Regions from separate parts of the Homo sapiens genome. Here region 1 is linked to region 2. The links come from fine-mapping of genetic effects on gene expression. Tissue or cell type: lung. Region 2 holds a variant in brackets; the other region holds the start of a gene. All regions are shown on one strand. Distances are between the middles of the regions.

What was found. PIP is the estimated chance that this variant, and not a neighbour inherited with it, causes the effect.
Region 1: it holds the start of CATSPER2, and the variant in region 2 is fine-mapped to the expression of CATSPER2 in lung (GTEx, PIP above 0.99). The same link has a PIP of 0.9 or more in breast, sigmoid colon, tibial nerve, unexposed skin and whole blood.

The regions. Positions count from the first base shown.
Region 1 is chr15:43,646,618-43,651,922 of GRCh38, reverse strand. CATSPER2 (cation channel sperm associated 2) reads left to right here and starts at 3,079. Exons shown (of 13, transcript NM_172095.4): 1 at 3,079-3,294; 2 at 3,860-4,006; 3 at 4,456-4,629; 4 at 4,805-4,873. The coding sequence starts at 3,862. It also overlaps the pseudogene PPIP5K1P1-CATSPER2 and the pseudogene PDIA3P2.
Region 2 is chr15:43,408,309-43,413,308 of GRCh38, reverse strand. TUBGCP4 (tubulin gamma complex component 4) reads right to left here. Exons shown (of 18, transcript NM_014444.5): 18 at 3,538-5,000. It overlaps TP53BP1 (tumor protein p53 binding protein 1), which reads left to right. Exons shown (of 28, transcript NM_001141980.3): 24 at 1-190; 25 at 3,568-3,662; 26 at 4,213-4,412. Among named protein-coding and RNA genes, the nearest start is that of TUBGCP4, 40 kb to the right of the region's middle. The variant AT/T (reference allele first, on the strand shown) is at 2,229.

The sequences.
Region 1 (5,305 bases), 240 kb before region 2:
TTGCTCATTAGTTGATGCAGTTTCTTCCTAGTCTCGATGGTCTTTACATTTTGGCATGATTTTGCAGCGGCTGGTACCGTTTGTTCCTGTCCATGTTTAGTGCTTCCTTCAGGAGCTCTTTTAGGGCAGGCCTGGTGGTGACAAAATCTCTCAGCATTTGCTTGTCTGTAAAGTATTTTATTTCTCCTTCACTTATGAAGCTTAATTTGGCTGGATATGAAATTCTGGGTTGAAAATTCTTTTCTTTAAGAATGTTGAATATTGGCCCCCACTCTCTTCTGGCTTGTAGAGTTTATGCCGAGAGATCTGCTGTTAGCCTGATGGGCTTCCCTTTCAGGGTAACCCACCTTTCTCTCTGGCTGCCCTTAACATTTTTTCCTTCATTTCAACTTTGGTGAATCTGACAATTATGTGTCTTGGTGTTGCTCTTCTCGAGGAGTATCTTTGTGGCATTCTCTGTATTTCCTGAATCTGAATGTTGGCCTGCCTTGCTAGATTGGGGAAGTTCTCCTGGATAATATCCTGTAGAGTGTTTTCCAACTTGGTTCCATTCTCCCCATCACTTTCAGGTACACCAGTCAGACGTAGATTTGGTCTTTTCACATAGTCCCATATTTCTTGGAGGCTTTGCTCATTTCTTTTTATTCTTTTTTCTCTAAACTTCCCTTCTCGCTTCATTTCATTCATTTCATCTTCCATCGCTGATACCCTTTCTTCCAGTTGATTGCATCGGCTCCTGAGGCTTCTGCATTCTTCACGTAGTTCTTGAGCCTTGGCTTTCAGCTCCATCAGCTCCTTTAAGCACTTCTCTGTATTGGTTATTGTAGTTATACATTCTTCTAAATTTTTTTCAAAGTTTTCAACTTCTTTGCCTTTGGTTTGAATGTCCTCCCGTAGCTCAGAGTAATTTGATCGTCTGAAGCCTTCTTCTCTCAGCTCGTCAAAGTCATTCTCCGTCCAGCTTTGTTCCGTTGCTGGTGAGGAACTGTGTTCCTTTGGAGGAGGAGAGGTGCTCTGCTTTTTAGAGTTTGCAGTTTTTCTGCTCTGTTTTTTCCCCATCTTTGTGGTTCTATCTACTTTTGGTTTTCGATGATGGTGATGTACAGATGGGTTTTTGGTGTGGACGTCCTTTCTGTTTGTTAGTTTTCCTTCTAACAGACAGGACCCTCAGCTGCAGGTCTGTTGGAGTACCTGGCCGTGTGAGGTGTCAGTCTGCCCCTGCTGGGGGTTGCCTCCCAGTTAGGCTGCTTGGGGGTCAGGGGTCAGGGACCCACTTGAGGAGGCAGTCTGGCCGTTCTCAGATCTCCAGCTGCGTGCTAGGAGAACCACTGCTCTCTTCAAAGCTGTCAGACAGGGACATTTAAGTCTGCAGAGGTTACTGCTGTCTTTTTGTTTGTCTGTGCCCTGCCCCCAGAGGTGGAGCCTACAGAGGCAGGCAGGCCTCCTTGAGCTGTGGTGGGCTCCACCCAGTTCGAGCTTCCCGGCTGCTTTGTTTACCTAAGCAAGCCTGGGCAATGGCAGGCACCCCTCCCCCAGCCTCGCTGCCGCCTTGCAGTTTGATCTCAGACTGCTGTGCTAGCAATCAGCGAGACTCCGTGGGTGTAGGACCCTCCGAGCCAGGTGCGGGATATAATCTCCTGGTGCGCTGTTTTTTAAGCCCGTCGGAAAAGCGAAGTTTTCGGGTGGGAGTGACCCGATTTTCCAGGTGCTGTCTGTCACCACTTTCTTTGACTAGGAAAGGGAACTCCCTGACCCCTTGCGCTTCCCGAGTGAGGCAATGCCTCGCCCTGCTTCGGCTCGTGCACAGTGCGCGCACCCACTGACCTGCGCCCACTGTCTGGCACTCCCTATTGAGATGAACCGGGTACCTCAGATGGAAATGCAGAAATCACCCGTCTTCTGCGTCACTCATGCTGGGAGCTGTCGACTGGAGCTGTTCCTATTCGGAGTATTGACATTTTAAAGAAATCCTAATTAAAATGGACAATATGGACAGATTATGATGGAATTATTCTTGTTCAGGTACTCTTTTCGTTTGGACAGAGGTATCTGCCGGTACTGAGATGTAAGTGATCAGCTGAAGGGAGAAACTGTACACCATGTGACGGACAAATTGCCTGCCTCAAGAAAGCACTTAGGACCATTCTGCAGCCACTCAGTGACCTTGGCTAGAAACCAATGGCTGTGCGGCGTGAGGTAAGATGAAAGGAAATACCCTAGGGATCCAGGACTTCTGCATTTGGTGAAACGTCCGCTTCCACTACAAGGCTTTGGGATGTCTAGTCTGTAGACTGGAGTAACATTAATACTGACTCATGCAGAAACAATATAGCTACATATTGAACTGGGGGAAGGGGTGGCAAAACCCTCTGCAAATAGGAAGTGCCACAAGAGCACCGAGATAAGGATGAGGCCCTGCGTGAGCGCAGCCTTCGGGTTTTCCTTGGGCCGATCAGCACCGACTCCACCGCTCTCGGCGAGGCACCTCCAGCTCCCGGGAATGAGAAATGTGCCCGCCACAGCAGGGGCCCACAGGAATGAAGGGCGCCGGCGCTGCGTAGGCCCAACAGTTCCCCGCGCCCTCGCCCCCGGCCCCGGCCCAGCCCGGCCCTTCTTCCCCCGCCTTGGCAGAGTGGCGTCATCAGGGGGCGAAAAACCCGACGAGCATGAGGCCCGCAGATCCCGTGTAGGAGATGCGACTCTCGAAGTTGTCGTCCGTGAGTTCGGAGGCAGCGGCGAGGCGGGCCGCGGCAAGAAGCAGCGCCACACCCGGGAACAGCGCTAGGCGGCGGAGGCGCATGGCGGCGAGGTGGGGTGGGGACGGCCGGAAGGGTCGCGGCTCGGCTGGGACTGCGGAGGTCGGGCGCGCGACCACAAACCGGCTGCCTGCGCTGGCGCGTCTGGCCCAGGGGACCTGCAGCCGGAGGTCCCAACCCCCAAACCCGGCTCGGGCCGCTGTGTGGCAGCCGCTGATTGGCTGCGCGTCGCCTTCGTCCGGCGGGCGGGACCAGCTGGTTACCGCTGAGTGGCCGGAGAGCGGGGCGGGGCGGGGCCTAGGCGGCGAGTGGCTGGGCGAGCGTTGCTCCGCATGGTCCTGGGCTGTGGGTAGGGGCTAGGGCCGGGTCCCGGGGTGAGCCGAAACCTGGGGGTCGAGCGGGGCGGGGAATGGGGCGCAGTGAGGCTGGGAGCCGGCCCTGAGCTCGTCTTGCATAGGGGTAGCCAGGCTCGGGGCACCTGAGCTGGAGGCGGAAGCGTGAAATAAGGACTGAGTGGGCAAAGAGAACCTGGGCTGAGGTGAGGCCCAGAAGCGAGAATGGAGGAGAGAAGGAGCTAGCCCCCGAAGGAGTGTTGGAGTGGACACACTTGGGACGGGACCCATTTTCAAAATGTCAGGCTTTGGCATTTTGTCCAATTTCTCTGCACTTGGTTTCTCTTGCGTGAGCAGGCCAAGACCTCCCCCAACTCCACCTCATTGCCCGATTGTCTCAGGCACAGGTGGGACCCAGATTCTTTGTCCAGCCCCGGGCCCCTGCCCTTGTGGCTGCTCCTTTTTCTTGCGGTGTTTTTGTTTGTTTTGTTTTGTTTTTAATGAGTTTTAATTAGAAATGCCATCACAAAGTGAAGATGCCTGGCCGCTTGGTCGACTGTGCAATGTCTTTACCACTTAGCCCCTTTTGTTTCAAAACACCCTGAGTCCTAGTAGAATGTTTGTTCTTCCCAACTGCTCCTAGTTCGTAGATGTGGGTACATTAAGGAATCTTAAGGGTAAAGAGGGTGGGGAGGAGGGGACAGAAAACCTGTAATCCTTGGTGCAGCTCCAAGAATGAAATGACACTTGATGCTTACATTTTCTTAGCAGACATGGCCGCTTACCAACAAGAAGAGCAGATGCAGCTTCCCCGAGCTGATGCCATTCGTTCACGTCTCATCGATACTTTCTCTCTCATTGAGCATTTGCAAGGCTTGAGCCAAGCTGTGCCGCGGCACACTATCAGGGAGTTACTTGGTCAGCAGCCTATTTCTTCACTAATTTAAATTTAAGACTCCTATCCACATCCTCTACATTTAAGAGTGGAAAATTCTGGGGAGGTTTAGTTGCTGGTTTACCAAACTTGATAAATCAAGGGCTTGTAAATAAAACTGAAGAGATAGAATCCACGTCTTTCACTTTTAGGCCTAGGATAGCCACTAGCCATGGATGATTGGGAAGAGTTTCTGTCAAAGACTCTTAAAACTTTGAGAGTGAGCCTGCTGCTTTTGTGGGCATGGACAGTGTTGGTCATAAGCAATACATTTGCTCTCACTCCAAACAGAATTCTTAGTTGCTGTGAGAAGAGAAGGACTAGCAGTAAGGCATTAGGGGAACCCATTACCTGACCAGTATCCCTGCCCCCAACCCTACCTGGTCTATTTTGTTTGTATTTATCCACTATCCCTTTTTAATTTTTGTTGTAGATCCTTCCCGCCAGAAGAAACTTGTATTGGGAGATCAACACCAGCTAGTGCGTTTCTCTATAAAGCCTCAGCGTATAGAACAGATTTCACATGCCCAGAGGCTGTTGAGCAGGCTTCATGTGCGCTGCAGTCAGAGGCCACCTCTTTCTTTGTGGGCCGGATGGGTCCTTGAGTGTATCCTTTCATGTCACTCATTTTTATCCTGGCTGTTGATCATCTGCCTAATGACTTATTTTTTGCTCCCCATACTCCACTGTCTCATTTTCACTGCTTATGTTATTGCTCTTATTATTTCAGCTGCATAAATCAGAAAGAACTCCACTCTGTACATTTCCTTAAGAGACAACAGGTCCTCTCTTCAAAAACTTCATCATCTTCCTGGTCTTTTTGAATACGATCATATTGATGGTTGAAATAGGTGAGAACTGACCTTGTATGAAAGAGGAAGTGAGGCCGGGCACGCCGGCTCACACGTGTAATCCTAGCACTTTGGGAGGCCGGGGCGTGTGGATTGCCGGAGCTCAGGAGTTGGAGACCAGCCTGGGCAACATGGTGAAACCCTGTCTCTACTAAAAAATACAAAAAATTAGCCGGGCTTGGTAGCACGCGCTTGTAGTCCCAGCTACTTGGGAGGCTGAGGCAGGAGAATCGCTTAAACCCAGGAGGCGTAGGTTTCAGTGAGCCGAGATTGTGCCACTGCATTTCAGCCTGGGCGACAGAGTACAACTCTGTCTCAAAAAAAAAAAAAAGAAAAAGAAAAAGAGGAAGTGGGTAGGAGTAATTTTTTTTTCTAAATTGATCATTTTACATTTTTGAATGTCATTTGAAATGTGACATTTATATTAAGGAC
Region 2 (5,000 bases):
AGCCCCTGTGAGAGTGGAGACAACACCGGTGAACCCTCTGCCCTGGAAGAGCAGAGAGGGCCTTTGCCTCTCAACAAGACCTTGTTTCTGGGCTACGCATTTCTCCTTACCATGGCCACAACCAGTGACAAGTTGGCCAGCCGCTCCAAACTGCCAGATGGTCCTACAGGAAGCAGTGAAGAAGAGGAGGGTAAGGCCTTAGGAAGCCCTGGGAGCTCTGACACATAGGCACTTCTTTCTTTTCCAGTCACTTATGAGCTGGTGGTCCCCCTGTTGTATGTAGAGGAGGCAAGGCAAGTAGCAACTGGGATCTTGGTCACAGAAATTACTCTGTATCCTGCTTTTTAACAGTTTCTAGACTGTTTTCACAAAATTCCTCTCAGTGAGTGGTTCCTGAAAACAATCCTGTGAGGCAGATGGGAGATAGATCTTATCTATTTTATGGATGAGGAAACAAGTTTGGAGAGGTTAAAGGTTAAATAATTGTGTTTTTTTTGTCCACAATAATGACAAACCTGTGACTAGAGCTCTGTCATTTTAGCCTACTGCAACCATCCAAGTCAATCAGGTCTGAATGCCCTGCCATCTTCCCCATTTGCGTTCTATGGGCATCTGCTAGAGCAAACCCATGTGGAGGGTAAGGTTCATTCTCCTGAGGTCTAAGACTGGGACTGTGGGGTGCCTGGTTCCTCAGGGTGATTGCAAAGAAACAGCTTCTAGGCCTTTTCAACTCTTATACCTCTCTTTAACCTTAAATTAAATCTGTACATTGCATTTATTTCTGTGTTGTCTGTTAGTTTTTGAAGGAAGGCTGCAGTGGGTAGAGGTCTGAAAAATGAGTGATCTAGGAGAGGGAATGAGCAGATATAAATGTATACACTGTAAATGTGACTGACAGCAGTATCTGAATGTGTCTGTAAAGGCTAAAGGTCCAGATGGAATGATGTTGTACAAGTTAGAGTTCTGACTAATGTTGTCTTGCAAGAGGGAATTGAATTAGGCAACATGGTTGTCATAATTTGCACCACTGGACATCTGTGAGGGTTGGCATTTCAGGTGTGTGGATGACTCTTTCCTAATTAACCAAAACTATATCTCACCGACTGCAGCCATGTGTAGATATGTACAAGGACATGGAAGGGATGATCAGGGGCAGGCTTTGGTTTGGGAGAGTTGGGCTGTGGGAGTGAGTAGATGTGGTGTGGTGGGATTTCAAGGTCCAGTGTTTGCAACACCTAGCTTGTCAAACAATCAGATAGGCACAGTGGGAATAAGGTATTTGAAGAGTTTCCTGGACAGGAAAATTGGGAGTCTTTTGAGGATTCTGCATAGAGGTGTGTCATGGCATTAAAACAGTGGTCATGGTCATGGGTTTTTTTTTCCCCCTTTTACAATATTGCTGGACTTGAAACCAGGACTTCACAAGGCAGCTGTATAGATGTTTTGTTTGTTGCTTGGTTCAGCATAGTCAAGAAAGCTGACTGGTATGAGATGCAGGCTGTCCAGTTTCATTAAAATCCGTGTGCCTGCGTGAGATGTAATAAAACTGTACTCATAAAAATAAAATGAGGCATTTGGACAGTGTTTTTGAAGGGATCTTCAGGTTTCTGATAGACAGTGTGGTTATGGTGAATGTGTCTTTATGTTGGTGCCTTCATCCTTGGGCGCAGCCCAACAGTACCAGAATCCTTGATATTTTCAGTGTATGAGAATGCTTGGGGGTTTCTCAATCTCAAGAAGGCGGAAGACATCTAATACTAAAACAATCCTCTACAGAATTATAGTTTTTAAGAAACTGTTTGGTAGATGTTACAGATAAATAGGAATTCTTAGACACCAGCTTACAACAGGAGCTCAGTAAAATATTTAAATTCATCTTATGAGATATATTTATTAATAAGTTTGGTACCTAATCTTGTTGGGTGGCACACCATCAGAGATCCTTCAGACACAGGGATTGACCCTGGAGTTGGGTTTATTTAGTACCTTCATACTTGATTTAGATGGCACGATTAACAACCTATTCATTTTAGCATCTGGCTGGGCAGGGCACTTATACCTCAAAAATGAAGAAATTGGAACCCAGACTATTTGAGAAAAATTAGAGAAACACACTGCCTAGACAGGGTAATACTTCATTAGACAAATTAAGGAAATATAATTAGGGATTAAAATCTAAGTAGACCAGTCCTGGATTAAGCAGACATAAAGTAGAAGTCTTGAGAAAA[AT/T]ACAGGACTGTAAGGGGTGTTGGCAGTGACTCAGCAGTAGAATCTTGGTGCTGAAGATTGTGACATGCTATATTGAGATAGCAAAAGGGTGCTATGACAAAGCTGAGAAATAGCCCTGCTGTATTCTGAGTTTCTTATAACCATTTAGAGTTTCTGTTTTGGGATTTCAATTTGAGAAGAATGTGGAGAATGCTGAATCAAGAAAAGAGCAGTAAAAGTGAATAGGTTGGCTAGTCAGAACTAAGTGGAGATGGAGACCCCTGACCTGGGGCCTCGGCGGTGCCTGAGCTCCTCCAGCAGACAACGAGGGCACTGAAGGGGGAGCCGTCATAAGGGATCTGCTCTAAGTTTTACTACTGGGTGTGAAGGGGAAGGGGAGTGGTACCGGCATTGAACCTTATGCACTGGATTGGGTTGGGTTTTAAAATTTGTGATAAAAATTTCAGTTAATTAGAACTTAATTTCCCAAAACTCCTAATTAACTAAAATCTCTAATGTCTTGCTTTTCTTTTCTTTTTTTTTTTAATGTGTTATTTATATATGAGAGGAGCAGATGACAAGAAAACAAGCTCAAATTAGATATTTGGTCAAAAGAAGCAATTTCTAATTGCCTAGGGTCATTACAGCTTCAGCCTCATCTCTCATATCTTCTACTTCACTCTCAAGACTATAGAGCAGTCATTGGTGTTCAGTGTCCTGAGGTACTTCAAGATCATCAAAGGTAGATAGTTTTCAATAAAAAGGTTGAAACAGGATTTTCTAACCTTCACTTAATCAGTTAAAATTTTAAAACCATATTTCATTGAGCATTCTGGTTTATTAAAGTTTTAGTTGTACAAGGGGGTAAAAAGGCTGATGCAGTGGTTTATAATAAACCCTTCATATATAACTTATAAAGTGTTCATCAGCTATTCATCTCCACAGAAGGCAGAACTAGAGGAAATGGGGTTTAGTTTTCAACAGGAAAGATTTAGGATAGACACAAAGGGAACTTCCTGATGGTAAGGGTTATTCAAGTTGGAATATGTCACTGTGGGAAATGATTGTGTTCCCATCCCTATCAACGGTCCGGTGCAGGAACCTTTGATGTTTTTAGGTCTAGGACCTACCTCCAGTCCTCATCTTCCCATTCCCTCCTACTCTTGTCCCTTCTTTTGGCAGCATTTTAAAGGCCTCAAGATCTCTTTCTGACCCATGGGGAAGCCCTTGGCCTGTCTTTGGGGACACACTGTTGTGGATAGCTGGGGAGTGGAAAAGGGGGCAGTAAGAAGGAGGCATAAGGTAGCAAATAAGAAAACCACTCAGTAATTATTATCTTGGTTTTTTTTTTTAATATAGAATTTTTGGAAATTCCTCCTTTCAACAAGCAGTATACAGAATCCCAGCTTCGAGCAGGAGCTGGCTATATCCTTGAAGATTTCAATGAAGCCCAGGTGAGGAGTTTCTTTGTGTAACCTAATATAGTGGCAATGATAAGAGCCAACTTGCTGTGTTGAGAAGAGGCCTGGGAGGGGTTGGGGAACCTGGATAAAGTAGCCAGAGATTTCAGGAACTGAGAAACTGCCAAAATGTTTTTGCATGAAATAGAATTTTTGTTGTGTATAGGGAAGAGAAGGTAGGACCTTGGGTTAGTTAATGGCTATGGTTCTGTTGCTGGGACAAAAGAAGATTGATGTTTATGTTTAGTAGTAGAAACCCCTATTAGGGTTGCTGATTTTTAGCCTGAAAGGCTGAGTTCATAGGTTTTGGTTGTCCGTTGAGGATTTAGGTCCTCAGTATGCTGCAGGTGAGGCAGAGAGAACATCTATGGAAATTACTTGGGCCTTCCAGTGAGAAGAGTGGCCTTGGGCAGGATAGACTAAATCACATTTTGGGTAGTAGTTGGGAGTCTTCAGATCTGCTCTTCATGGCTCATTATGGCTGCTGCTTAGGAGCTTTCCACAGAAGTCACCAAACCCATTGGCTCTGCTTCTTTTCTTGCAGTGTAACACAGCTTACCAGTGTCTTCTAATTGCGGATCAGCATTGTCGAACCCGGAAGTACTTCCTGTGCCTTGCCAGTGGGATTCCTTGTGTGTCTCATGTCTGGGTCCATGATAGTTGCCATGCCAACCAGCTCCAGAACTACCGTAATTATCTGTTGCCAGCTGGGTACAGCCTTGAGGAGCAAAGAATTCTGGACTGGTAAGTATTTGAAGCCCATCCAGAATTGTATAGGCAGGAGGACAGCAAGCTTTGGAGGGAAGAGAATCTAGGTGAGAGAGTAAAGCTTTCTAGAAATTGGAATGTCTGTGGGATAAATTTGAGTGGGTTTGAAATGACTTCAGGAGTTTATCTAGTTTATTTCCCTAGGTTACATTGGCTAGGAACCTTTTGCAAATGTGTGAAGATTTGTATATAGGTTCAATATTCTCAACCTGTAAAGTCAGAGAACTAAGTTTTAAGCAAGCATTAAAAATATATAGGCTCAGGAGCATGATTTGGATTATTCTCAGCCCCAGAACAAACATGGAAATTAGAAAGCCAGGAATGCAAGGAATACAGATCATTCATAGAAAGAAGGAAGAGAAGGGGGACCCTAATATAGGGCTTAGTTTTTTAAGATGAAGTCTTGCTCTGTCACCTAGGCTGGAGTACAGTGGCGCAGTGACGACTTACTGCAGCCTCAACCTCCCAGGCTGAAGTGATCCCCCTACCTCAGCCTCCCAAGCTGCTGGGACTACAGGCACTCGCCACCACACCCAGCTAATTTTTTTGTTGTCTTTTGTAGAG